Homo sapiens: one gene and its partners. The protein of the gene in region 3 interacts with the protein of the main gene of each other region in a biochemical or structural test. Each region holds a gene or a part of one and is shown on either strand. Other genes may lie near its edges. The genes, in order: ARHGAP32, INPP5D, CRKL and SASH1.

Region 1 (7,024 bases), on a different chromosome or scaffold from region 3:
TGGTTTCCATGAGATAGTTCCCATTTGAGGTTGGAGTCTGCCATTACCTTGATGCTGGCTTTTCCCCAGGAAAGGAGTAGCTCCTAGATGACTATAGCTTAACTGTACCTGCTCCCTTTTCTTCCTAAAGTGTCTCGGTAGTTTATTCCAGTAACACAAAGAGATCAGGATCAAATGAGACAAAGTGGGCTTTACGGTTGTGGGTTGCTTTTTCTTATTTTTTTCCAACTCCATCACTGACTCATTGTGACTTTGGGCAAGTCATTTACCTACCCTCTGCCAATTATTCACAGTTACACAATGAAAATACTTCATTCTCAAAACATTCGTAAGACTGTCTGCCTTGCAGACTTTTTGGAAGTATAAGAGATTATAGTGCCTTGGGATTTTTTGTTACTTTCCTAGCATTCACCAGCAGTTTGTCCCATAGTCAGGTGCCTGTTTCAATGAGAGAATGTAGTATGCAGAATGCTAAGGTTTCTTCCTGAATTTCCTCATATTTTAAGAAAGTGCCACAGGTTGTTTTTCTTCTATATGGTCACCTTGAACTATTAATAGGACTTAAGATTTTAGACCTTAGTGGAGGATGCTGTGTTTACTGCTTCTCAAGGATAGCATGTTTTCAGTATGAGGATTATCTTTGGCCAGACTAAGGTGGAATCAAAGGTAGGAGAGAGGCAGTAGCTTCTGATTTGAATATTGCCTTTCCCTATGTTTGAAGCCCTAAAACTGCTAACTGTGTACAACTGTGAATTTCAAAAGTCTCCCCAGATGATAGAATTAACTCTTAATTTAACAAGATGTCCTTTGTGTTGAGACTGAGCTAGACTAATAGACCGGGTATGTATTTTTAAGCTCTACAGCATTACTTGACTAAACCTCTCTTTTGGTTTGTATATTAAAATTATGCCATAGGCAACCTCATCTCGCATTTAAAACCTCTCATAAATTAGAAAACTTTGAATGGTTCTCCAAAGATAATACTGGGTGTTGTACAAAATAGCAGCACAAGCCTTCTTTTCCTAGAAATGGGTACAGATTCATTGCAACCACATGGCTTGGGAAAGTTCAAGCTGCTACCCAACCAGCCTTAATTTGTGAGTTACAAATTTAATAGTACTTGATTCATAGAGGGAACAAAAAATAGACCCATAGTATTATCATCTTTCAATAGGTTCAAGGAGTAGTTCCAGTTCCAGAGAGGCCACCTGAACCTCGAGCCATGGATGACCCTGCGTCTGCCTTCATCAGTGACAGTGGTGCTGCTGCTGCTCAGTGTCCCATGGCTACAGCTGTCCAGCCAGGCCTGCCTGAGAAAGTGCGGGACGGTGCCCGGGTCCCGCTGCTGCACCTGCGCGCCGAGTCTGTCCCTGCGCATCCCTGTGGCTTTCCTGCACCACTGCCCCCCACCAGGATGATGGAGAGTAAGATGATTGCTGCCATACACTCCAGCAGTGCAGATGCCACCAGCAGTTCAAATTATCATTCCTTTGTCACTGCTTCATCCACCTCTGTGGACGATGCATTGCCTTTACCACTTCCTGTCCCACAACCTAAGCATGCTTCTCAGAAAACAGTTTACTCCTCCTTTGCTAGGCCCGATGTCACCACTGAACCCTTTGGTCCAGATAACTGTTTGCATTTCAATATGACTCCAAACTGCCAGTACCGTCCCCAGAGTGTACCTCCCCATCACAATAAATTGGAGCAGCACCAAGTGTATGGTGCCAGGTCAGAGCCACCAGCCTCCATGGGTCTTCGTTATAACACATATGTGGCCCCAGGAAGAAACGCATCTGGACACCACTCCAAGCCATGCAGCCGGGTCGAGTATGTGTCTTCTTTGAGCTCCTCTGTCAGGAATACCTGTTACCCCGAAGACATTCCACCGTACCCTACCATCCGGAGAGTGCAGTCTCTCCATGCTCCGCCGTCTTCCATGATTCGCTCTGTTCCCATTTCACGGACAGAAGTTCCCCCAGATGATGAGCCAGCCTACTGCCCAAGACCTCTGTACCAATATAAGCCATATCAGTCCTCCCAGGCCCGCTCAGATTATCATGTCACTCAGCTTCAGCCTTACTTTGAGAATGGCCGGGTCCACTACAGGTATAGCCCATATTCCAGTTCTTCTAGTTCCTATTACAGTCCAGATGGGGCCCTGTGTGATGTGGATGCCTATGGCACAGTCCAGTTGAGACCCCTTCACCGCCTTCCCAATCGAGACTTTGCTTTCTACAATCCTAGGCTGCAAGGAAAGAGCTTGTACAGTTATGCTGGTTTGGCTCCACGTCCCCGGGCCAACGTGACTGGCTATTTCTCTCCCAACGACCATAATGTAGTCAGCATGCCTCCGGCTGCTGATGTGAAGCACACCTACACCTCATGGGATCTTGAGGACATGGAAAAATACCGCATGCAGTCCATCCGGAGAGAGAGCCGTGCTCGGCAGAAGGTGAAAGGGCCTGTCATGTCCCAATATGATAACATGACCCCGGCGGTGCAGGACGACTTGGGTGGGATCTATGTCATCCATCTGCGTAGTAAATCAGATCCTGGGAAAACTGGACTTCTCTCAGTGGCAGAAGGAAAGGAGAGCCGCCATGCAGCCAAGGCCATCAGTCCCGAGGGAGAGGACCGCTTCTATAGGAGGCATCCCGAGGCAGAGATGGACAGAGCCCACCATCACGGAGGCCATGGTAGCACGCAGCCGGAGAAGCCATCCCTGCCTCAGAAGCAGAGCAGCCTGAGGAGCAGGAAGCTTCCTGACATGGGCTGCAGTCTTCCTGAGCACAGGGCACACCAAGAAGCAAGCCATAGGCAGTTCTGTGAGTCAAAGAATGGGCCCCCTTATCCCCAGGGAGCTGGCCAGTTAGATTATGGGTCCAAAGGGATTCCAGACACTTCTGAGCCAGTCAGCTACCACAACTCTGGAGTAAAATATGCTGCATCCGGGCAAGAATCTTTAAGACTGAACCACAAAGAGGTAAGGCTCTCCAAAGAGATGGAGCGACCCTGGGTTAGGCAGCCTTCTGCCCCAGAGAAACACTCCAGAGACTGCTACAAGGAGGAAGAACACCTCACTCAGTCAATCGTCCCACCCCCTAAACCAGAGAGGAGTCATAGCCTCAAACTCCATCATACCCAGAACGTGGAGAGGGACCCCAGTGTGCTGTACCAGTACCAACCACACGGCAAGCGCCAGAGCAGTGTGACTGTTGTGTCCCAGTATGATAACCTGGAAGATTACCACTCCCTGCCTCAGCACCAGCGAGGAGTCTTTGGAGGGGGCGGCATGGGGACGTATGTGCCCCCTGGCTTTCCCCATCCACAGAGCAGGACCTATGCTACAGCGTTGGGTCAAGGGGCCTTCCTGCCCGCAGAGTTGTCCTTGCAGCATCCTGAAACACAGATCCATGCAGAATGAGCCCTGCGAGCAATAGAGTTGAAGCAGCCTCTGCTGGACAGTGGACTGTTCTATTTTTTTCAATAACCAAAAAGATTAAACAAAAAATACTATAAAACCCCTGACCACATTTAAAAAATGATAATAAAAGTAAACAAATCAGCATCTTTTTCCCCTTCCCTGCTTCATTACCCCCTCTTCCATCTATAGACTTTGTCATTTTTGTCTTTAGAAAAGATCTGAAGGATGGTAAAGCCCCGTGCTGAAACCCAGTAGAGAAACCTGTCTCAGGACACACTTGCCATCTAGGGCTAGCTTGAAAGAGCCTGAGGACTGCCTTTAACTGAATTTGAATTCAGCATTGTCCTTTCTTCTTAGTATTTGCTGCATAATTGAGAGCAGTTCACATCGATTTCCTGGTAGGCGTCTGCATTCCCTGTTGTGTTCCTGCTTCTCCTTCAGTAGCTGCACAACTTGCGCAGATCGACACACTGTTGTCACTTCATTCTCCCCGTCTGAGAAGGATCTTGTGTTCAGTTAGAGTCGTGGAAAAATCCCTGATCCTTCAAGGTCAGTCAGACAGTTGGCAACATTATAATTAAAAATAAGAAATTAAGACTTTAAATTAAACATTTGGTAGAGTCATCATAAAACACCAGACCACTTAGACTCAGGCTGAACCATACTCTTTCTATTCTTATTTTTCATCCTTGTTCCTCACGGTTCAGTGAACAGGCTCATATCATGACAGAATGGACTTTTAAAAGTTAGTACTTAAGGAAACTTCTTTAGGTGGAAGAAAGTAAAGTTCTTATTGTCAGTGAACTTTATTAGCACCAGAAATCTCTATTGATGCTTTTAATGCATTGCCTGCCTTCAGGTTTTCTTCTTACCCCACCCCTCAATAAGATTTGGTGAATTGTAATTCTAGTAAAACATGTCATACCATTGGTTTTCCTAAATTATCAACTTTCTTTCATTAAAAAAAAAAAAAAAAAAAAAAGCCCAGCATGGTTTGACTGGATAGACACGCATAATTTATTATGAATATAAATTTCCATGTTTGTTTCTGTTCCTAAACCAGAGTACGAGGTCCCTGGGAATTTAAGTAGCTACGCATTATCTATTATTAGACTGCAAGTTCCTGCAATAACTGCTTAGTTCACAGCCCCGTTTCACCAGTGGAGTTCTGGGCAGTTATTGCTGTCCTAAGGCATTACTGTCGTTTGCTTACTCTATACTTGTGTGGTCACAGTCTTCTTGTAATTACCATCTACACCAGCATTTCAGGTATAGCTCTTTATAACTCTGGAGACATGTAAAACATGTTTAACACCCACGAGTTTTGAAAGTTGCATTCCTTATTAGAGTAGGAACTCTCTAGCCCAACTCCATTCTATGTTCTCAGCTCCCTCCACCCCCCAAAATACATCAGACTAGCAAGGCAGTCCTATGTTTACAAAACGAGTTTAGATTGTCATTTCATTCCATAACTCTTAATAATACTCAAGTTTTATACATTCACGTATTTTAAATGCTCGGTCTGTAGAAGACACTAGGAGAATTGCATTCCAATTACTGGATGGTTGCTGCTCTGGCTTTTTAGAACTTGAAATTAATTTTTATTTAGAGCAAAGGAGGAAATCTTTTAAGAGGCTAAAATCATGCTGCTATTATTGCTGTGAAATTGTATAAAGATTAGGATTCATGCCAGTTTTTATTTTAAAAAATAATGTGCATTTTAAGGGTTTATATTTAGAAAAAAATAAAATGTTTCAAGAACAACACATTGATATGTGGAAATATTCTATAAGGTTTTCTTTTGTTCCCTTAGAATTCATTGGAGGGATGCAGTAAAAACTGTAGTAGAAACCTTGAAACACCCATATGTGAAAAGGTCTGTGGAAATTGAGGCCTCTACATTAAAAGTGCAGAACCAACTGTTTTACAGTCAAAGTGCTAGGAAACCTGATAGGATACTTCCCTTTGGCACAAAAACACCCTGGGTGCTACATACAGGAGTATGACCTTTGGTGAATATGTGGCACTAATTTTTTTTACCTTAATCATATTCTTGTCAAGTAGGCAACCCATTGCCCCTTGGAGACCACACCAGCCCTGTAAGTTCTCACCAGCAGCATGGAGATTAGGAAGAGGGGCTGCTGTGACCAGGAGATACACACGGCTTTAAGTAACTGAGAGCCTAAAGAAAGTAACCCAGGGAGTCCGGTCCAGTTTTAATATTTGTGGATTTGTTGTCACACACATTGTTTAGTCCTGAAACTAAAACCTATTTTATAAATAGTAGGGTTAATTCCTCGAAACAATTTCTTTATTAATAAATGTCCTGTGGGTTTAGAAATATCAGGTAAATATTTGAATACAGAATGATGATTGCAATTACTGTTACAAGCGTGAAACACAAACTTCAGATCAAATCTAGAGTTGCTTCATTTAATGCATGCTAGCAACAGCCTTAACTTTGGATTCAGTTATTTGAAACACTTTTCCGGCATCTTTCCCTTTCTAATGTTGTGGGGTGGAAACCGGATGGCAAATCACTGTGAGCCGGATACCTCAGCACAGTCCACCTTGTGTGTGACTTCACAAATGGGGGACTTCACAAATGGGGTAACTGAATGTTATTACTTTCAAATTTTGACATGGAGCATTATGATCAAGGAAATGGAGCTGCCTTATACATTAAACCCGTGATTTAATCCTATTGACATTTTCATAGCCATGCCTCCAGATTTTATCTTTTTGGCAAAATTCTGATTCCACAGTTTGGTCTGATTGAAATAAATATTCCCTGGACGTCTGGCTAAAAATTTTGCTAACAATCCCAGAGGTGCCATTTTCTTATTAATAAATTTCATTGGAGCCTTATTTCTTACTATATTCAATTTCGTTTCAAACCTGCAAGTCCCTGGGATGGTCCCACGACTAGGGCCTGCACATTTCTTACAATGGCAAAGCATTTTTTAAAATTTAGGGTCAGGTTGAAAAATTCTAGGACTAATTCTGTAGAGAGGAGGGACTGTTAACTAACGTGAGTGGGGACGGAGGAGTAGGTTACCACATTTGGAGCAGTAATAGATGCAAACGATGTAAATTTGAAATTTGCCCCTTTAGTTAAAGAAGGAGCCTGCAAAGTCCATTTCTCTGTTTTCAGCCCTGTCAGTCACCCATTTAGGATGTTGGCAAAGTACTGCTTGAGCAGAATGTGTAAGAAAGTAATAATGAAAGCAAAAGTATGTCAGACAGTTACTTCTTCCACATGGTTAGAGGCATGTGATTTTCAGCACTGTGTGTTACAGAAATGTCAGGAATGGTGTATTATAACGTGTGCAAGATAATGTCAGTGTGCACAGAGGGTCTTTTTTCCTTATCTGATTAGTACTGTTAATGTTCAAAGAATAAAAATGGTTTTACAGTTTAGATTCTGAGATAGCAAAACCTGATTTTTCAACCATGACCTGCATGAGAGAAGCATCCTAGGAAGTCTTAGATCATACTTTTGAGTTTTTAATTTTAATTTATATAGTGTTTTTTTATGTCTTAATATTTTTGTGAACTGGTGTAAATTGTTAATGCATATAAGCTTGTGTATTTTTG
Region 2 (7,551 bases), on a different chromosome or scaffold from region 3:
TTATAGATCAATAGATAGATAGGTAATAGTTAGACAGATGGCTAGACAGATGGATGGCCAGATAGATAGATAGATGGCTAGATAGATAGTGACTAGATAGATGGATAGGTAGATGGCTAGATAGATAGATGGATGGATGGTTAGCTAGATAGCTAGATAAATGGCTGGATAGATAGATGGATGGCTAGATACATAGATGACTAGATAGATAGTGGCTAGATGGATAGATAGATGGATGGCTAGATAGATGGCTAGATAGATAAATAGATGGATAGATAGATAGATGGCTAGATAGGTGGATAGATAGGTGGATGGCTAGAGAGATACACAGATGTATGGATAGATAGATAGATAGATAGATAGATAGATAGATAGATAGATAGATAGATATGGAATTGGCTCATAGGATGGTCAAGGCTGGCAAGTGCAAAGTCTGTAGAGTGGGCTGGCAGGCTGGAGACCCCGGGAAGAGTTGATGCTGCGGCTCGAGTCCATAGGCAATCTACTGGCAAATTTACTCTTTGGAGGAAGTCAGTCTTTTTCTATTAAGACCTTCAGCTTATTGGATGAGGCCTACACACAGGAATTGCTTTACTCAAAGTCTACTGATTTAAATGTTCATGTCATCTAAAAAATACTTTCAGAGAGACATCCAGAATAATGTTGACCAAATATCTGGGTCCTGAGGCCCAGCCAAGTTGACATAAAATTAACCATCACTGCTCCCTTTGCTTTTAGCACTCAGTGAGTGAACACTTTCAGCCCCTGCACCCCAAGCCATGAGTGATATCTATCTATCCACCCAGGCTGGGGGGAGTGGGAGCCCTGGGGCATAGTAAAGGGCTTCGATGAACACAGGAGGGGAAGGGAAGTACAGAGACAAATGCTTAGATATATTGTATATCTGTTAACATTGTATAGTAAATATATATTATATATATATAATGTGTGTGTATATATATACACACTATATATATGATGTAATGTGTGTGTGTATGTGTGTATATATATATATATATATACACACACACACACACATATATATATACAGTATATATTGACCTCTGCCTCCCCTCTCCTGGCTCAGTCCCTTCTCAGACCCTGAAATTCTTTCTGTTTCTTGTCCACGGTGGAAGGACCCCTGGACAAGAAGCTTGGTGTCTCCATTGTCCCTCTCTCCCAGCCTGCCCTGACCCTGTCCTGAGACTCAAACCTTCCTGTGACCCGCCCTCACTTAAGGTTGCCAAAGCAGAATTGCTCCAATGCCTTGGCCCTGCCATGTCAGCCCTCCTCTTCAACACTGAGGCCTGTCTGTTCTTCCCGGAGCTTCTAGAGTTGGCTGAGTGCCCATGACCAGGTGCCTGCCAGACCACCCTGATGCTTCTCACTGCCCAGCTTTCCCAGAAATTGTTCAAGTCCCCTGATGGGGCCTGGGGCTTGCCAGGGCTGGCAGTGCCTTTGGGCAGGTGCCCCAGTCTGGACCCAGGATCACATGAGTGAGTCTGACCCCACTTCTTCCCCTCAGCTGCTTTCCAAGCCTCTGCCCCATGGGTGAGGTTGACCAGATGCTCCAAGGAATGCATAGACTCACACTATGCAATCGCTCTGGGGCCCTATGGCTGGGTGTGACTCCTGGGCACAGCCTGGGGAGCAGGTTTCTCCTTTGAGTGGCCCCGAGCATTGAGGACAGCAAGGATAGTGGCAGGTGGTCTAGGCCCTCATCACCCCTGCCAGCAGCAGCTGGCAGTCCCTTATCCCTTCTGGAGGCTCCTGTCCACTATCAGGCAGCTGCCTCCTCCAACGTCTTTCGAGGACATTGCTCCACAGCACCGATACACCCACGGGCTCTTCCCATCAGCATCATCTCCCACCTCCCATCCATGTGGTGATGCTGAGCTCTCCACATTGATCCTGCCAAGCCAGATGCAGGCAGACATCCCTGGAGAGTGAGACTGCTCTTGTATGTGGAGGGCCAGGGTGCAATCATCATCAAATGGGATCTCAAGGTAGGAATGCAGTGATTATGGCCTAACACATTCAAGAGAATATGGCTGGAAGATGTGTGGTTCTACCTTTATGCTATAAAATTTGGAACAGTAATTTTTTTTTTTTTTTACTGTGTCGCTCTATCACCCAGGCTGGAGTGCAGTGGCACGATCTCGACTCACTGCAATCTTCGCCTCCTGGGTTCAAGTGATTATCCTGCTCAGCCTCCAAAGTAGCTGTAGCTGCGATTATAGGCACGTACCACACCCACCTGATTTTTTTTTTTTTTTTTTTTAGTAGAGACAGGGTTTCACCATGTTGGCCAGGCTGGTCTCAAACTCCTGACCTCAGGTGATCCACTCCCCTCAGCCTCCCAAAGTGCTGGGATTACAGGTGTTAGCCACTGTGCCTGGCCACTCTCTAGCCATTATTTGAAGTCTTCATTGATAAATCACTATCCCTCACATGAGTTTGTGAATTTTGTAATACGTTAAAATTATTTATATTGACTGGAGACCTACAAAAAAAAAAAATCCACCCACCAAAAGGGCAGCTCTGATCTAGATACTGGGATTTCCTGAATGTGGAGGGCAGAAGGGTGGGGGACAAGCCAGCTGACCATGCTGGATAGATCAGGCAATTGGGTGGAAAAGGAAGCAAAGTTGGGATGGGCCTTAAAAATGAGGGAAGAGTGCCCGTGTGGCGTGTGTGCCAGGGGATCTCACTCTGTGGAATGGCAAGGACCGTGGGAATAGAGGTGTGAGAGGTGGGGGGCTGGGGGTTTGGGGGAAGCTCTCTAAGTAGGGCAGTCTTGGCATGGTAGGGGTCTCTAGAGATGAGTGGGTGGAGGTGTAAAGGGACCAGTATTGCAAATGGATCCTCCTGGTGGCGTGGTCCAGGACTTCATGGATGTTGGTGGAGGCCAGCAGGGAAGTGAGAAGGGTGTGAAGGTACACAATGGGAGCATAGGAGATGACCCCATAAGGAGGGGGTGGACAGGTGCTGAGTGGAGGCGTGGGTGGGGAATGAGAGGCCTCCACACTGGGCTGCTGCAGAGGTGGCGTGCTGCGGAAGGGCCGGAGCATGGAGGCCAGTTCCCATCACCACTCTATCCCCACGCCTGGCTCCCAGCCTGGCCAGAGGTCCTTGACTGGGAGTGCTTTGTCTGCCCTACAGACTCGCCTGCCATGTGTGTTGCTCAGCGGGGAGGTGCTGGGGGCCCTGTTCTGGGACAACCATCAGTGTGACACATGTTGAGCCCCTGGGCACATGTGAGCTCTTTTACGAGCTACGTCCTTCAAGTTAGACAAGAAGAAACCAAGGCCGAGAGAGAGAAGAAACTTGACCAGGTTCCCACAGCTTGAATGTGGTGGCGCTGCCTGGCTGGTGCCCCTTCCTGGAGGGAGTCTGTTGTCATGTCCTGGAGGCCAAGGCCTGGATGTGGGATGGTGGGGGCACTCTTTGTGCAGCGGGTCAACACGTGCCCCTTCGGCCTTGGTGGGCCGGACCCAAGGACGGAAGGTGCCCAGGTCTGGGGGCTGAGGGATGGGTGTCCACCGCAGAGCCCTCAGAAATGACTGGTCCTGGATGGCGGTCCCTGGAGAGGCAGCTCCTCTTTGAGTGGTGGGCATATGTGGCCATGCCCAGTCTTGGAGGCGGTGCAGTCCGACCGGCCACCCCGACTGCTGAGACGCAGGACTCAGCACCCAGTGTTGTCCTTGGCCAGGCGGCCAGCCTGCCCTGTGGGGCTTTGGGGTTCTCCTCTCCGAGCTTGTTTCCCCAGCATCCTGGAGAAGCCCAGGGAAAAACCCAGCCTATGTTCCCGCTGTAAACGGCCCACATCCCCTCCAAGCTCCCTTTGTGTGTCTCCAAGCTGGACTGCAGGGATCAGAGCTGTGCTGCCCGTGCAGCACCCACCCGCCCCTGGGAATGAGGGTAATGGGGTCACAGAGCCATCACTTGGACCTTGGCGCCCTCGGCTGGTGGCAGCCAAGGTCTCCCAGCACCCAGGCCGCTGGGAGTCTCTAAAGGGGAGGGGTGGGGCTCGACTGTCCCCTCCCCCTCAAGTTTGCTCTGTCCTGGGCAGGCCGTAGTCCCAGTTGAGAAGCTGTGCCCCCTTGGGTGTTTTGGAGGTTCAGGGTGGGTGCTGAAAAGCCCTGAGGGAGAGCAGAAGGCTCGGGGGCCTGTCTAGGGCATGGCATCCCACGTGGGTGTCAGCACGGCCGCAGAAGAACCACTTCTCTGGCCCACCCATGCCTGCTAGGCCATGCTTCTTCAGAAGTGGCCACAACTCTCCTGACGTCTCCAGAGCCGGTCATTCCACCCAGGGGGACTTCAGCTGCCACTGGACACTTCAATTGTACGCTGCGACCAGTTGCCAGGAAGGAGAGGGCTGGCAAGAGAGCCGCGGCAGCCGTGGCAGGGTGTAGGGGACGGTGGACGGCCAGGGCCCCCCCCTCTCTCTCTTTCTCTCTCTCTCTCTTGCTTGGTTTCTGTAATGAGGAAGTTCTCCGCAGCTCAGTTTCCTTTCCCTCACTGAGCGCCTGAAACAGGAAGTCAGTCAGTTAAGCTGGTGGCAGCAGCCGAGGCCACCAAGAGGCAACGGGCGGCAGGTTGCAGTGGAGGGGCCTCCGCTCCCCTCGGTGGTGTGTGGGTCCTGGGGGTGCCTGCCGGCCCGGCCGAGGAGGCCCACGCCCACCATGGTCCCCTGCTGGAACCATGGCAACATCACCCGCTCCAAGGCGGAGGAGCTGCTTTCCAGGACAGGCAAGGACGGGAGCTTCCTCGTGCGTGCCAGCGAGTCCATCTCCCGGGCATACGCGCTCTGCGTGCTGTGAGTACAACCTGCTCCCTCCCCGGGCACAGATATGACAGAGGGGCTTAGAGGGGGCCCAGCTTTGAGATGGGTTGTTCTTATGTCACAGGACAGAGTGATCTGACATGCACACTTCCCCGCCACCCTGTCATGGACCTTGTCCTTGGAGTTCAGAGAGCTGGTCTCATGGCAGGTTTTGCAGCCTTGGAGCTGTCAGAACCACTCTGAGGCCTGATGTTACACCCCAGCTTCCCATGAGCTGTATGGACCTTGTGGCTTCCTTGGAGTCTGGGGACCGAGAGAAGGGAGTTTGGGCTTTTGGAGCCAGGAGGAAGCTCAGGGCTCTGTGGAGGTGGGTGTGTTAGAGATCAGCTCAAAGATGCCCAGCTCAGAAACCCTGAGAAGAGCAAAGGTGGCAAGGGGGACCCTTCCTGGAGCACCCAGGCTTCGGGCCCCTGGAGGAAGCTGTTGTTTGGCGAGCCAAGAATATGGGGTGAGTTTAATCAAGAAAGGACTTTCCATTCAGTCAGAAGCTGCTTTCAGGGGCCTGAGAGCAGAGGAAGTCACCATTACCACCAGCGAGCAGCCTCTTCTCTCTCCTGAGCACTTGGCTGTGACCGCTGCCCACCCCCCACCCCCTCAATTTGGGTCTCTGTCACCATCAACTCCTCCCACTGCCCGGTTGGGGATGTTACTGAATGTACCAGCTGTGCTAACAATGGAGGAACCAGCCACTTGCTGAAGGTTCCTTTCTAAAACCCCCTTCCTGTCCAGCGTCTGAAGGAGGCCCTTGCCCTGCAGCTCTCGGTCTAATCATAGGGGGGCCTTGCCCTGCAGCTCTTGGTCTAATCATTTTGCCGGGGCCTCAGGCAGTGCCGGAGTGTAGTCAGGGAAATGTGTGTCCACCTGAACATCTCAAGTAGCATCCCTGGGCTGGCAGAAATGTTCCCCCGAGCAGCCAGGGCCTTGTGCTTCTCCAGGCAGGAGGGGAATTGGGTGATGAACCCAGACCTGTTTTGAATACTGACTCACAGCTGGGACCTGTCGTGCTAAGCATTTGTTAGCCCATTTCATCCTCACCACAACCTAAAGTGAAGGTCCTGTTAAAAGCCCCACTTTGCAGATGAGAAATCTGAGGCCCTGGCAGGTTAAGTGAGTGACAACAGTCAAAGCCACGGCCATCTGCCCCCAGAGGCTGCAGCTGAGACCAGCAGCCTGTGGCCCAACCTCTCCTGCTCCCAGTCCAGCGGGGCAGGCATGTAGCCTTGCAGGGCTGGAGAAAGAAGCAAGGGGAGCCACAGTGTTTACAGGGTCAGCTGGGGCACTGGAAACCAAGCCAGGCTCGCAGCTGGTCGCTGGCCTGTGCTGACAGTCTGCAGCCCCACCTCCAAAGACTGGTTTCCTGTGTCCCCTCTCTCATGCCTCAGGGGAAGGAACGCAGGCCCAGGCTGCCTGGACTTCCCCAGTGGGGACCTGCTGCTGCCGGGGCCTTAGAAGGAGCAGGAAGATTCTCTTAGGCCTCTCACAAGCCCAGTCTGACTCCACCTGGCCCATGTGGGTTACTTGGATTTCTCTCCTGGCCCAGTGGGATCTTGTCCTGGCTGTTTGGTGTTGGCTGAGCCGAGGGCTTCCAGGGCCCCATCTCATTAACCTTCAACACAGCCCTTTGACCAGGGCTTGCTTTGTGGTTGCTCAGGTTACAGACATGGGGCGTGGGTCTCTCTGACTCCGAGCCGTGAGCATCTTAACGTCTAGGATTAGCCTGAGCCAGAGTCAGAGCTGGAGAGGCCTTGGAGAAGCTCTGGTGCAACAGCCCTGGCTTTTCAGGAGGTAGACAGAGGGCAGAGAGCCTGAGGCCTTTGTCCACCATGCTGGCTGGGGTCAAAACTGCTGGGATCCAGGCCAGTTCTCGTATTCCTTCCTCTACCTCTTCTCTCTGAACCCTTGTCTGCACTGAGTTCTCTCAGAGTCATGATGGGTGTGCAGTGTCTGCTCCTTAGAGAGGGACCTGTGGTGCCTACAGATGTCCACTATCCTCTCAGCCGAAGCCTCGTCAGCCTCCTATCCTGAGGCTGCTGGGCTGCAAACACCAGGAGTCCCACCCCTTGGCCAGACAAACCCTGGGCTCAGTGTTTCCCTTTCTCCTCTGCTCAGGGTGGGAAGCTTCCCTTCCTGCAGGGTCAGGCTCCACTGTAGGCCGTGGGTTGCTATGGACCTGCAGACTTTCCATACATCTGCAGGCTTCATATGGCTGCCACCCTGGATTTTGCCAATTACGGAGATTTTAAAACTAAAAACTAATTAAATGAATGATAACAAACTGTCATCTTCCAACACCTCATTTCTTGAAAGAAAGCAGCCTTTGACACCAAAAGAGGCAGGAAGGGCATTAAAAAAAAAAAAGCCAGTCATTTAAAGCAAAGAGATTGAACTTCTTGAAAAACAAACCCTACCACCCTTAGTTTTCTGTGTTCCCTGCAGAGTCGCCGTGGCCTGACGGAGACGGCAGAGGCAGACAGTCCCAGGCTGAGGGGTGTGCAGGGCAGCCGGGTTTTCTGCGGCTGCAGAAGTAGCAGGCTTTGCCCCCCTAGCCCTGGAAGCCTGGAGCCACCCTGCTCTAGAAGTGACTGCAGAAGGAAGCCACACACTCACCCTCCTGCCCTAGCAAAGTCCATGGGAAAAGTATACCTGCCCCATGGCCCCTCAGATCACCCAGGTGCCCTGACCTCATCCTGCCTGGGCCCCAGCAG
Region 3 (7,024 bases):
GGAGTTTGAGACCAGCCTGGTCCAATATGGTGAAACCCCATCTCTACTAAAAATACAAAAATTAGCCGGGCATGGTGGTGGGCGCCTGTAATCGCAGCTACTCAGGAGACTGAGGCAGGAGAATCACTTGAACCCGGGAGGTGGAGACTGCAGTGAACCGAGATCATGCCACTGCACTTCAGCCTGGGCGACAGAGCGACACTGTCTCAAAAAAAAAAAAAAAAAATTCAATTCCAAGATGAGCTAAGTACTTCTCTAGTGAAACTGCTTTAACCACCATTCTTTTTTTTTTTTTTTTTTTTTTTTTGAGACGGAGTCTTGCTCTGTCACCCAAGCTGGAGTGCAGTGGTGCGATCTTGGCTCACTGCAATCTCTGCCTCCCAGGTTCAAGCCATTCTCCTGCCTCAGCCTCCCGAGTAGCTGGGACTATAGGCGCACGCCACCATGCCTGGCTAATTTTTTATATTTTAGTAGAGACAGGGTTTCACTGTGTTGGCCAGGCTGGTCTCGAACGCATGAGCTCAGGCAATCCACCTGCCTCCGCCTCCCAAGGTGCTAGGATTACAGGCGTGAGCCACCATGTCCAGCCAGTAACCACCATTCTTTATCACTGACCAGCATTTAATGCCCAGGTCCCCTCCCTTCTGTCCCTGGGCTTTCAGGCCATCACTAATGGCTCCTCCTCCTATGCTTGTGGCTGCCTCTCCTTCCGCAGCTTCTCTTTCTCTACTTATTCCTGTTCTGCCTCCTCATTCTGGGTGATCCCATCTAAGCTGCGATTCCCAAATCTATATGTATTCAGCCCTTACCTCTCTTCTCAATAACAAACCCATCAGATTGCTAAATACCACCTGGCTTCCAGCAGGTACCTCAAAGAAAGATTCTTCCTGTTGAAAAGAATCACGCACCCACCCTAATCCCTTTCTCTTGTCTCAAAGGCACCACTCAATCCTCTCTGAAGTCATCATACCTCTCCCCTCACCTTCTATGTGCCACTTTACATTCCTATGGCATTTGATCTTGGCTCAGCTTCTCAGGGTCCCTCTCCAGTAACAGAGAATTAGTCCTTCAGATCTTTCCCCACCCAGAGCAGTTTCTCAAAAGTAAAACTCATCAGTTCTCCTTTTAAAATCTGACAGTTCTCTTTTTAAAAACTTTAGATGGCTCCCATTGTTAAGCTCATTTACAAGGCTGAGGAGGCCCTTTACAAGTTGGCTTTATCTTTCCTTCCTAGGTTCCTGCCCATCATCTACATTAATTATAACTGTGTCTTTACCAGCAAGCACTGCCACCATCTCTTCTACCACCACCTCTTCTACCTCGTATACTTGTTCTCATCCTTAAAGAATCAGTTGAAGAGCATCTCCTCTTTCAAGCCTCTCCCCACCTCTTAGGTACAGTTGATTGCCTTTGCTTTTAAGCTGTCATGGCATTCTAATTTTTTCAATAGACCAAAGCTTCTCAAAGACAAAAATCAAAAACAAAAACATGGTTTACTTCCATTAGATTCCAAGAGTCTAGCAGTGAGCTTTGGTATATTGTAGGCCTCTATATATCAAAGAACTTCCCTTTCCTATTTCCCTCCTTTTTTGTTTCTGAAAGCACAAAAGCTCAGGTATTCAAATTACCTAACTCTGGTTTAATACTGTCACAAAACTGGTGTGACAGAATTCGAATACCGTTGAGTGTGCACCTTCAAAGCCTCTTCTCATCCTCTTCCACTGTTCTTGTCACGTTCATTCCAGGTGAGTTGCTATGTGCCTGGTGGCCCCACCCAACTTGTTATGATTTTAGCTCAGATTCAACTCAAGTTAATCTGAACTCCCAACTAATAGGCTGTGCCCCCTTTTACTTATCTGAAAGAATTAAAATAATGTTTTTTGTTTGTTTGTTTTTTGTTTTCCGAGACGAAGTCTCGCTCTGTTGACCAGACTGGAGTGCAGTGGCGCTGGCGCAATCTCGGCTCACTGTCATCTCTGCCTCCCAGGTTCAGTCTCGAACTCCCGACCTGCCAGACCTCCCAAAGTGCTGGGATTACAGTCGTGAGCCACCACGCCCGGCCCAGAATTAAAATATTTTAATCTTAAAGACCCTCAGAAATCTAGTCTAATCATTCAGATCAAAAGGAAAAATTTAGGTCACAATTCTGTGGATTTGAGTTTTAAAAGTCACAAATCGAATGGCTACTAGTACTTTCCATGGGAACACAACTCTTTTTTTTTTTTTTTTTTTGAGACGGAGTCTCGCTCTGTTGGCAGGCTGGAGTGCAGTGGTGTGATCTTGGCTCAGTGCAACCTCTGCCTCCCAGGTTCAAGCGATTCTCCTGTCTCAACCTCCGGAGTAGCTGGGACTACAGATGCATGCCACCACGCCCAGCTAGTTTTTGTATTTTTAGTAGAGACGGGGTTTCACTATGTTGGCCAGGATGGTCTTGATCTCCTGACCTCATGATCCGCCCGCCTAAGCCTCCCACAGTGCTGGGATTACAGGCGTGAGCCACCACATCCGGCTGGGAACACAACTCTTAATTGGACAAGATTCCATTCTCAGCATGACAGTGTTCTTGTTTTTTGTTTTTTTGGAGAGAGTCTCACTCTGTCGCCCAGGATGGAGTCCAGCTGCACGACCTCGACTCACTTTAACTTCCACCCCCCAGGTTCAAGTGATTCTCCTGCCTTTAGCCTCTTAGGCACACGCCGCCATGCCCAGCTAATTTTTTGTATTTTAGTAGAGACAGGGTTTCACCGTGTTGCCCAGGCTGGTCTCAAACTCCTGCACTCAGGCAATCCACCCACCTTGGCCTCCCAAAGTGCTGGGATTACAGGCGTGAGCCACTGCACCTGGCCATGTTCTTGTATTTTTCTCTGAATCAAATTCACATGATTTTAACTACTGGTCAGGAGAAACGCAAAGGGGTTTATTCACAGAGTTGAATTCTATGCTGATTAAAATTACTGGCAATCCTTTCCCCATTCCAAATTATGGAAGTCTAGATTTGAGTTCTTAAATAATTAGAACAGGGGATGTAAAGAGGAGGCACAACCATGCTTCTTGTTTCCTCCTGTCCCTTCAGGGATTGGCTTCTACTTCACAGGTGTGTGAGGCTCCTCTTCTGGGCTCTCAGGTTAGACTAAGCACCCTTTCTCAGTTCTCCCACAGCTGTTTCACCATGCATGGAGATTAAATATATTAAATATATACAACTTACATTCATTCATTCATTCATTTTTTGAGACAAGGTCTGGCTCTGTTGCCCAGGCTGAAGTGCAGTGGCATGATCATAGCTCACTGTAGCCTCGACCTCCCATGCTCAAGCAATCTTTCCACTTCAGCCTCCCAAGTAGCTGGGACTTAAAGGCGCATGACACCATGCTCAGCTAATTTTTTAATTTTTTGTGGGAATGGGGTCTCACTATCTTGCCAGGGCTGGTCTCAAACTCCTGGGATCTAGCGATCCTCCTGCCTTAACCTCCCGAAGTGCTGGGATTACAGGCACGAGCCACCGAGCACAGCCAACCTTTACATTTTTTTTTTTTTTAGTAGCCAGGCGCGGTGACTTACGCCTGTAATCCCAGCACTTTGGGAGGCCGAGGCGAGCAGATCCCCTGAGGTCAAGAGACAGAAAACCATCCTGCTCAACATGGTGAAACCCCATCTCTACTAAAAATACACAAATTAGCCAGGTGTGGTAGCGCGTGCGCCTGTAGTCCCAGCTACTTGGGAGGCTGAGGCAGGAGAATCACTTGAACCTAGGAGGTGGAGGTTGCAGTGAGCCAAGATTGCACCACCACACTCCAGCCTGGCAACAGAGCAAGACTCTGTCTCAAAAAAAAAAAAAAAAATGCCAGGCGCGGTGGCTCATAACTGTAATCCCAGCACTTTGGGAGGCCCAGGCGGGCGGTTCACGAGGTCAGGAGATCGAGACCATCCTGGCTAACACGGTGAAACCCCGTCTCTACTAAAAATACAAAAAGTTACCCGGGCATGGTGGCGGGCACCTGTAGTCCCAGCTAACTCAAGAGGCTGAGGCAGGAGAATGGCGTGAACCCAGGAGGCGGAGCTTGCAGTGAGCCAAGATCCCGCCACTGCACTCCAGCCTGGGCGACAGAACAAGACTCCGTCTCAAAAAAAAAAAAATTTTTTTTTTAGTAACCAGTAAGCTCCTCAGAAGCATGATAGGGCTGTCTGATTCAATGTTGGTTCCATATTACCAGGTACATGTAATGCTCAAAGTCTGCTGAGTACAGTACATTATTTTCTTGAAGGGCCAACTTCCTTTAGTTTTTAATGGTAAAATTTTATTTATTCTAATTTTTCTTCATAGCCTGAATTTATCTATCGACACAAGCTAGAAATGGAAAATGTCAAACAAAGCAAGCTACCTTCTGAAGCATTCTGTTGTTAAACTGGAAACAGCCCTTATTAAATAAAAATACACTAGAGCTAGGCCAGGCGCAGTGGCTCACACCTGTAATCCCAGCACTTTGGGAGGCCCAGGCAGGTGGATCACTTGAGGTCAAGAGTTCAAGACCAGCCTGGCCAACATGGTGAAACCCTGTCTCTACCAAAAATACAAAAATTAGCCAGGTGTGGCAGTGCATGCCTGTAATCCCAGCTACTAGGGAGGCTGAGGCAGGAGAATCTTAAACCCCAGAGGCGGAGGTGGCAGTGAGCCCAGATTATGCCACTTCACTACAGCCTGGGGGACAGAGGGAGACTTGGTCTCAAAAAAATAAATAAAATAAAATCCACCATAGGAATACCACAAATACAAAAAGCAGTTAAAGATAAAAACACAGAAGATAACAAAGTTACAAATAGACCAAATCATCCCTTCTTCCCTTTCCCTTCATCCCCACCCACCAGCAAATCAATTTTATCTCCAAAATAGGCATCTCCAAGTCACAGCTCCACTGTCACTATTAGTCACCATCATTTTGTAGCTGGATTACAATAACAGCCCCAGGTCACTCCTCTGCCTCAAATTCCTTCCTTGGAGCCCACAGCACTTTAAATAAAAACCCAATTCCTGACCCTGATCTTTATCTCCAAACTCATTTTATATGTCCCCCTTTCTCCTTTAAGAAACACACTCCCAGGCCGGAGAGGGTGGCTCACATCTGTAATCCCAGCACTTTGGGAGGCTGAGGCAGGTGGATCATGAGGTCAAGATATAGGGACCATCCTGGCCAACATGGTGAAACCTTGTCTCTACTAAAAATACAAAAATTAGCCGGACATGGTGGCGGGTGCCTGTAGTCCCATGCAGTCCCAGCTACTCAGGAGGCTGAGGTAGGAGAATCACTTGAACCTGGGAGGCAGAGGTTGCAGTGAGCCGAGATTGGGCCACTGCACTCTAGCCTGGCCACAGAGTGAGACGTCATCTACCAAAAAAAAAAAAAAAAAAAAAAAGCCGGGCGCAGTGGCTCACACTTGTAATTCCAGCACTTTGGGAGGCCGAGGCGGGCGGATCACTAGGTTAGGAGATCGAGACTATCCTGGCTAACATGGTGAAACCCCGTCTCCACTAAAAATACAAAAAATTTGCCCGGCATGGTTGCAGGCGCCTGTAGTCCCAGCTACTCGGGAGGCTGAGGCAGGAGAATGGTGTGAACCCAGGAGGCGGAGCTTGCAGTGAGCCGAGATCGCACACTCCAGCCTGGGCGACAGAGCAAGACTCCGTCTCAAGAAAAAAAAAAAGAAAAAAGAAAGAAAGAAAAGAAACACACTCCCAACACAATGGACTTTCTCACCTCAGGACATCTACATAAGCTTTTCCCTAAACTTGGAAGGCTCTTCTCCTCCTCTCAGGCCAAGCCTTGCCTAGGCTGGGTTCTTCTTTACCCTCAGGTCTTAGCTTCATGCTTTCTCTGACCACGCCACCCCAGGTAGGTCCCTCCTGTATATTGATCTTACTAGTACTTTATTTTTCTACTTTTCAGTCTGTCTTCTCCACTACAGTAGGAGTTCCACAGGAAGAAAGTATGTCTGTCACACATCTTTCCCAGTACCTACACTGGGTTACACTGGGTTATAATTCTCTTATAAACATTTGAATAAAAATATAAAATTAAAAATTATGAAGCATTCTAATGAAAAGGATAAGACTATAACAATGCAAGCCACCAGTCCTTAAATTTCGAGTAGGACATTATTGTTACAAATTTTAGCTATGCAAGATAAACCAAAATATTAGCCAAGAGGCATGAAACTCTGGCTTTAAAAGCTCAGTTTTGATGCCTGCAAAGTTAAGCCACTAAATGTACCCTGTTTGGGATGCGAAGAAGCATTACACTGAGTTTTCCGTTTGGCCCAGGCTCTAGTAGTCACTAGCTTTCTATAAAAGGCTAATAACATGTTAAACCTAAGCCATGAAAACCAGGCTTGGGAGTGGCAATTCGAAGATTCAGTATAACAAAGTAAACTCAGTCAGGATCTAATTCAACCAGCATGGTGATCTCCTTCAGAGATACCTAGGAAAATGAAAAACTAAATTAAAGCAACAGGCCTGAGGCAGAGGGCACAGAGAAGGAGAAACAAAGCTGAACGTGAGGGGTAGGGTCAGAGAAAGGCCCTATAATCTGTGAGGGGACTGGAACAACAGGTAGGATTTCAACAGATGGAGAGTGAGGTGTAGTTAAGGCAGTCAGTGAAGAGCCAACAGCTGGAGCAAAGGTGCAAAGGTACAAAGGTATGAGTAAGGAAGGATGGCTACCAGGGAATAAGTGAGCAGCCTAGTACAGCTGCAGTAAAGGAAGGACGAAAGAGGGCAAAGACAGAATTACATGCTTGTTCTCTAAGAAGATGCATGCATGTACGGAAAATCTGGAGGCGATTCTGTGGATAGAGAGAAGCGGCATACTTCTTTTCCTTCCTCTAGAAGGAGACTCAAGTCATTAACTTTTTCCTTTTTTTTTTTTGAGACAGAGTCTCACTCTGTCACCCGGGCTGTGCAGTGGCGCGATCTCGGCTCACTGCAACCTCCGCCTCCCGGGTTCGAGCGATTCTCCTGCCTCAGCCTCCC
Region 4 (7,024 bases), on a different chromosome or scaffold from region 3:
GTGTTCCGGGTCCCTGATATTTAACTCATCCAAGTCTTCCTCCTCCAGCAGCTTAAAGGTGTCCAAATCTTCATATCCATTGAACAGGAAAGTGGGCATGTGCTCCTGTGAGAGGGAGAAGGAAGACAGAAGGGTGTCAGCCAGCCCAGACACATGATAACACCGCCAACAACTAGCCTGCAACCCACACACTGTTCCCATAGTCACCTTCAGGCTAATCAAAAGATTAGTAAGTATCATTTGCAATGGATCCTGTACATCCCAGCCCTCTGGCTTAGTAGGCAAGCAGGGTGTTTTATTAATCATGGGTTAGGAAGATGTACATTGCAGGCTGTGATGGATTCTGCTGGCTTGCACTATAATTGTACTCTTGATAAGAGCTAATTCCTTTACCTCCACAGAGCCCACAACAGAGGAGACTCCTCCTCCACTTACAGAGCTATTAAAATCCAGCTTTTAAGTCCTCAGGATCAAGAGTTTTGCAAAGAGGAAACATAATCTCTCATTGCAGACTCATGCTAGTAGATGCCTGGAGTGATGGTGGGAGAGAGGTGGGCGCAGAGTTTCCTTGTGGCCCCTGTGGAGCTAGCTGCGATCAAGGTGCCAGGAGTTTCTGCCTACAGCTCTTCCAGCAGCAAGGTTTGACCCGGGGCTTACGCTATCACCCACAGCTGAGGTCAAGGGCAGTGTTGGAAAACTGGTAACTAACTAACTCTTTCTGTAGAATAATGAATGCTCATCATAGTAACGAGCTGCCCTTATTGGACCACACAGATCAGCCCCAACCCTACCCTAAAAATGCCCTCACTTGCTTAGTGTAGGAGAGAAAAAGGCAGTGAGGTAGTAGCGTGTGACAAGAATCAGAAGCGACTGACTTTTAGGTTAATCCGATCCAGGAGATCCTCCACAGACTTGGGCTGGGGTGGTCGTCCTTTCCGACGCCTCCTGGTGGGGCGTTTGGGTTTCTCCTCGTCTTCACTGAGCACGTCCACGTAGATGAACTTGAACGTGCCGACTTTGTTGTTCAGCAGGCCCATCCAGGTCCCCATGGGTGGCTTGCTGATTATATCGATGATATCTCCTTTCTGTGGCCCAGGGAGCAAAGATCTTTCCATTAGGTACATTCCATGAACGTACAAATCAAGAATCTGTCAGATACACAGGTCATGCAGAAGTGAAGATGCCACAAAGGCCAGAATCGGGGTCCCACAAGTCACCCCTCTGAGTGACCTGCATAGGATGTGACTGTGAGCTCCGCAGAGGCCAGACAGGTGTCTCTGACTGTACGGAATTCCACGCAGGCCCCCGGTCACAGCCCCTCCACCCTCCTGCCCTGCAGAACCAGGGGTGCCTGGGGTACCCCTGGTGCTCTCAGCCAGGCTGCCCGCCCGGCACTCTGAACGCCTTCCCTCCTCAGAGGGCTCCCACTTCTTAGAGGAGGCACTTCCCACCTGTCCTAACCAGTGGCAATCCCGGCCCTGTCATGGCTGCACACACTTTGTGGAACCCCATCTGTCCCATAAAGGTACCTCTGAGCACACAGAAGGCAGAAATCTTTCTTCAGATGGAGAAAACACAGAAACCAGGTGTGTGGAGCAGGAGCCAGGTGGGGAGAGGGAGGGTGTGCAACAGGAATTCTAGAGGGAAGCTGAGGTCAGAGGGGTGAAGTGATGCTAACCCAGGGATTAACACGAGACCCTCCCTCTGCCTCGAGGGCTGGCTGGTTCTTGTTCTGTTTTTCACTACAGAGGAGACCAGTGATCGAGGTAGCCAAGATACTGTCCAGTCTGTACCATAGTAGCCCAGCATTCAACAGTGAGGAGGAAAGAAAGCCTCCTAGAGAAATGGAAGAGCCCAGTTAGCTGCTCTGAGGCCAGGGAGAGAGATACCTTGAGCTTGAGTGAGTCTGTGTCATAGGGACTGGGGGTGAAGTCGGTGTGCACCCTGGCACGCCCGCAGAACGGGCCTCGGTAAGGCGGCTCTTCGTCATCCCCATCTTCCGACTTGACGCTTTCCCGGTTGCTGGTTGAGGAATCAGTGGTGCTCACTGTTTGACCGCCTGTACAGGAAACATAGGAAGAACACGGGTAGATCCAGATTTCCCACCCAGCAAAGCAGAAAGGTATTGAAGGTATGGCAGATTAGGAAATGAAGGCCCAGAGAAAGGAAGCCTTGAGCCACAACCCTCTGTCAGGACCAGGGCAGGGCCCAGTTATGAATTCTCCGAGTGCTATCCCTCAGCTCCTCAGTGGACAGGGGACTCACAGCAAGTTACCCTCATGACCTGGGAATCCATGTGGCACGGAGGATCCCGCGTGGAGGACACTGCAGGGCCAGGCACCAGACTCTGCTCTTAACATTCGTGACCTCTCAGTGGTAATGCACACTCTCTCTAACCATTTTACAGATGAGGAAACAAATTCAGAGCAGTCATGTCATTTGCCCAAAAGGGTAAGAAAGAGCTTAAAGTGGTAGGTTTAAACTTGATCTCGGGGCACGGTGGCTCACGCCTATAATCCCAGCACTTTAGGAGGCCGAGGTGGGCAGATCGCTTGAGTCCAGGAGTTCCACCAGCCTGGGCTACATGGCAAAACCCCGTCTCTACAACAAAATTAGCCGGGTGTGGTGGCATGACCCTGTAGTACAGCTATGCGGAAGGCTGAGGCAGGAGGATCCCTTGAGCCAGGGAGGTGAAGGTTGCAGTGAGCTGAGATCACAACACTGCACTCCAGCCTGGGAGACAGTGAGACTCCATCTCAAAAATAAAAATAAAAATAAAATAAAGTTGATCTTTTCCTTCATACCATTCAGCCAACTCCAACTACCATTGGCCCGAATTTATCAGTCACATATAAAATTCCCCTCCCTTCCCCACTCCCTTTATTTTGCTGGTCATCTTCATGTGCTTGTCTCCCTGGCTTATTCCCCCTGCTCTCTAGATCCTTCCTCTGAGATGCTTTCCCTATTGTCTCCGATCAAAATTCATCACCTCCTGTTTTGGGCTGCTGCTGCTGCATGTCTACTAATAAACAAACACGACTCTGAGTCCAGAGAGTTTATTGGTCTGATTCTCTAATAGCACCTGAAGGGCAGGACTTGGTCTTATTCACCTTGAAATTGCCTGAACCTAGTGCTCAGTATATGTCAGATATTAACTCCAAAGAAAATAATCTACAATGACAAACTCGACTTACTCATGGAGCTCTGCCCACTGAGAGAACTGCGAAGACTTTCTACAGAACCCCCGGCCTTGAGCTTGGGCTTGTCCAAGTGTTCGGGGTCGGGCTGTGAAGGCGGAGGGGAGCCAGGCATTCCATCAAGGCCCGAGTCCTGCCATGGGTTTCAACAAAATGAAGAAGTTCATCAGAGTGGACAGGTGTTGTTTTGTAATTCTCAGCGACTTGGCCTTCAACGAAATCAATCAAATCAATCTATACCTATATTTGATTCTATAACCAATATTCTCCTCCTCTTAAACTTACATCCTCGCTTACTTTTAAAGTCGTGGCCAATGTCACTATTTATTAAGCACTCAAATACTATTTCTCATTCTCGAATAGATATTCTTGGAATCTCCAAGAAAAAAAAAATCTGTCTACCACACAGACAAAATACTTAAAGGTTTAGAGACTCAGCATACGCAAAAGCCCAGTAGCAAGGCTGGACTTCAAATGTAGATCAAGTACAATCCATGATTACTAGAATACCTGGAAGTGTAGTCAGAGGATATTTAATCTACTTGGATAGGAAACATGCACTTTTAAAAAAGTGTATTCCTGGAAAAAAAAAATTGGCTAGATTCTTATATTTCTATTTGTACAAATTATTGGCATTGGATAAGGAAACATGAATTTAAAACCCACATATACAGCAAACATACTATTTTCCAGTCTACCATAAAATTTCCATATGTTACTCTAAAGTTTTAGCTTCTTTCACTTTTCTAAAGTGTTGTCAGTAAAAAGCTGGGAAATCTCTTTCACACCAGAATCCTGATGGGAGTGACTCAGCAGTACTTCCTGCATTTTGAGTAGCTAAGTATTATCCTCTCAGCGGCTCCTCATTTGCACATTTGAGTATAGCATGCTTATTTGATTCGTGGTGCTACATCAATAGACGATATCACACTTCAGAAAGTTTGCAGTGAGAATTGTTTACTTGCCAAAATAGAAAAGTCTCTGGCATATTACATATGGCCGCAGCCACACGGGCTCAAAACCAGCTAAAATGAAACCTGCTATTTGCATGCTGCCGAGTCATCAGAAGGGCCTTAACACAGCTCCGCAGGTCCTGCAAACATCTGAGGACATCAGCAACAGCAGCTTCTGATCCAACACACATTAGTGCTTTCAATGTGAGGAAAGTGAGCAAGCGACCTCAAAAACAACAAAGAAAACTAGAGCTGACATTATTAGGAAGTTACTGAAGCTCCAAAGTATGAATTCCTTAAAAAAAAAAAATTCATTCCTCCTTTCTGCGTCATAAAATAAGTAACTTTTTTCCCATTAAAATCTTCTGTAATGCTTCTGAAAAAAGCACGCAGTTTGAAAAACAGCAATAGTAAATGTGGGTCTCTGATATATTTTCAAATGCTTTAAAAAATTATTAATTTATTCATCACATGTTTATGAATTACCTACAATAACAGGCACTAATCCAGGTATTGGGCATATAGCAGCAACGGAGAAAACAAATATCCCTACCATAATGGTTGGTATATTTACTAAAAAGTTTTTTTAAAAAAACACACAAGGTGGGCGCAGTGGCTCATGCCTGTAATCCCAGCACTCTGGGAGGCTGAGGTGGGTGGCTCACGAGGTCAGGAGTTCGAGACCAGCCTGGCCAACGTAGTGAAACCCCATCTCTACTAAAAATACAATAATTAGCCGGGTATGGTGGCACGTGCCTGTAGTCCCAGCTACTCAAGAGGCTGAGGTGGGAGAATCGCTTGAACCCAGGAGGCAGAGGTTGCAGTAAGCCGAGGCCACACCATTGCACTCCAGCCTGGGTGACAGAGTGACACTCCGTCTCAAAACAAAAACAAAAACAAAAAAAAAACAACCACATAAAACCTTCCATTATTTTTGCTTTACAGAAAATTTATAATGATCAGTTGTTTCTTTTATTCCTTAACTTATGTGAAATGGCTGCTTTAAAAAAACAGAACTAAGCACATAAGATTGCTATATGGTAGTAAAATTATTGAAAAATGCCAAAATGACATTAAAATTCTATGCTTCTGATTCATAAAGCAGAAAACCTCTGTGAACGTAAAGCTTAAGAGTTTTAGTGGCTGTTTCAATCTATCTTGGGGAAAAGCAAACTTAATAAAATGCTTTCAATTAGTAGCATGCTCTCACTAGCATGCTGACTGCTTCATTGCTGGGAAGAAATATAGAATCACTATCACTCCGTCACCCACAAGGACAAGAGAATGAAAAGAATAAAGAAAAAAAATCATGGATAAGACATGCTGAAGGCAGTCCAGACATCTATCTCCTGCAGGTCTAACAAGCCACGGTTTCTCAGCCTGAGCACTGATCATTTTGATGGACAGCTCTTTGCTGTGCAGACCGTCCTGTGCATGCTAAGATGTTTGGCAGCGTCCCTGGCCTCTATCCTCTAGATCAGCATTCTCCAACTCCCGGGCCACGGACCAGAACCCGTCTGTGGCCTGTTAAGAAGTGGGCCGTACAGCAGGAGGTGAGTGGCGGGTGAGCAGGCCAAGCTTCATCTGTTTTCACAGCCACTCTCCATTACCCGCATTACTGTCTGAGCTCCACCTCCTGTCAGATCAGCGGCGGTATTAGATTCTCGTAGGAGCACGAATCCTATTGTGAATTGTGCACACGAGGCATCTAGGTTGCACGCTGTTTATGAGAATCTAATGCCTGATGATCTGTCACTGTCTCCCATCATCCCCAGATGGGATCATCTAGTTGCAGGAAAACAAGCTCAGGGCTCCCACTGATTCTACATTATGGTGAGTTGTATAATTATTTCATTATATATTACAATGTAATAACAATAGAAATGAAGTGAACAATAAATGTAATGCATGTGAATCATCCTGAAACCACCACCTACACCAGCTCCGTGGAAAAATTGCCTTCCACGAAACCAGTCCCTGGTGCAAAAAGATTGGGCACTGCTGCCCTAGATGCCAGCAATATCCACTCCACTTCACCTCAACCCAGTCTGACCATTGAAAGACATTGCCCTGGAGTCCATGGGGGAGCAAAATGATAGCCTCTCACCCCTTCCCCGTGAGAACCACTGTAATCAACTGAAGCTGCTGTGCAGGCTTTGTTTGAATCAAGTGAGGTGGGTGGCAGGCTGGTGACGTTCGGTCATTCGCATAGGGGCGATGCTTGGTTTTAGCTCACTGTGCCCACCAGAGAGCAGCAGCTGAGCAAAAATGTCTGCTTTTCCTGCTGTTTTTATTTGGTAGATAAAGTGCATTACCTACATATTTCAAGCAGACAACCAGCTCATACACAGGAACTTCAACAGGCTACAAAATGAGTGCTATACAGGTGCTGGAGGAGAGTGTCTTGAAAATTGAATGGTCATAATTACCTTGAGGCCCAGCTCTCCAACTATCTTTACTCCCTCCACCCATGCAATTTAGACAGAAACAGTCATTTCTCTAGCAATGAAATTATAGATCCAGGGGGGAAAAATCAATTCTATGATACCTTCCTTCATGGCTACAGATAAGGCAAATGAGGGAAAACACCCCTCTCTGAAACATTATTACCAAAGCCTGGTACCCAGGAAGAACTTTGAGTTTATTTCTTAGACTGGCTATGTGCTTCTAGAACAACTTATGCTATGATCGACAAGTCTACTGCCACCCCCCCCCCCAAAAAAAAAAAGCTTTAGGTTTGATTCAGGTAACATCCATTTTGTAGCAAGGCATAGTTTAGAAAATAAAATCCTTCCTTTGTATTCAAATTTACAACGCTTAGTGCACTGAAGAATAACCATTTCTTTACATGTCTGTCTCTCTTGTCTGTACACA

The links.
Region 1: the proteins of CRKL (region 3) and ARHGAP32 form a complex in vitro, tested with the Homo sapiens proteins (one study listed by BioGRID).
Region 2: the proteins of CRKL (region 3) and INPP5D form a complex in vitro, tested with the Homo sapiens proteins (one study listed by BioGRID).
Region 4: the proteins of CRKL (region 3) and SASH1 interact in a test that uses a peptide from one of them, tested with the Homo sapiens proteins (one study listed by BioGRID).

Annotation. Positions count from the first base shown.
Region 1 is NC_000011.10:128,965,310-128,972,333, reverse strand, and holds part of ARHGAP32 (rho GTPase-activating protein 32), read left to right. Parts: intron 1-1,174; coding exon 1,175-3,427; 3' UTR 3,428-7,024. UniProt on the Homo sapiens protein: GTPase-activating protein (GAP) promoting GTP hydrolysis on RHOA, CDC42 and RAC1 small GTPases. May be involved in the differentiation of neuronal cells during the formation of neurite extensions.
Region 2 is NC_000002.12:233,055,794-233,063,344, forward strand, and holds the start of INPP5D (phosphatidylinositol 3,4,5-trisphosphate 5-phosphatase 1), read left to right. Parts: upstream 1-4,548; 5' UTR 4,549-4,685; coding exon 4,686-4,819; intron 4,820-7,551. UniProt on the Homo sapiens protein: Phosphatidylinositol (PtdIns) phosphatase that specifically hydrolyzes the 5-phosphate of phosphatidylinositol-3,4,5-trisphosphate (PtdIns(3,4,5)P3) to produce PtdIns(3,4)P2, thereby negatively regulating the PI3K (phosphoinositide 3-kinase) pathways.
Region 3 is NC_000022.11:20,920,395-20,927,418, reverse strand, and holds part of CRKL (crk-like protein), read right to left. Parts: intron 1-7,024. UniProt on the Homo sapiens protein: May mediate the transduction of intracellular signals.
Region 4 is NC_000006.12:148,527,832-148,534,855, reverse strand, and holds part of SASH1 (SAM and SH3 domain-containing protein 1), read right to left. Parts: intron 3,331-7,024; coding exon 3,195-3,330; intron 2,060-3,194; coding exon 1,890-2,059; intron 1,086-1,889; coding exon 876-1,085; intron 106-875; coding exon 1-105. UniProt on the Homo sapiens protein: Is a positive regulator of NF-kappa-B signaling downstream of TLR4 activation. It acts as a scaffold molecule to assemble a molecular complex that includes TRAF6, MAP3K7, CHUK and IKBKB, thereby facilitating NF-kappa-B signaling activation.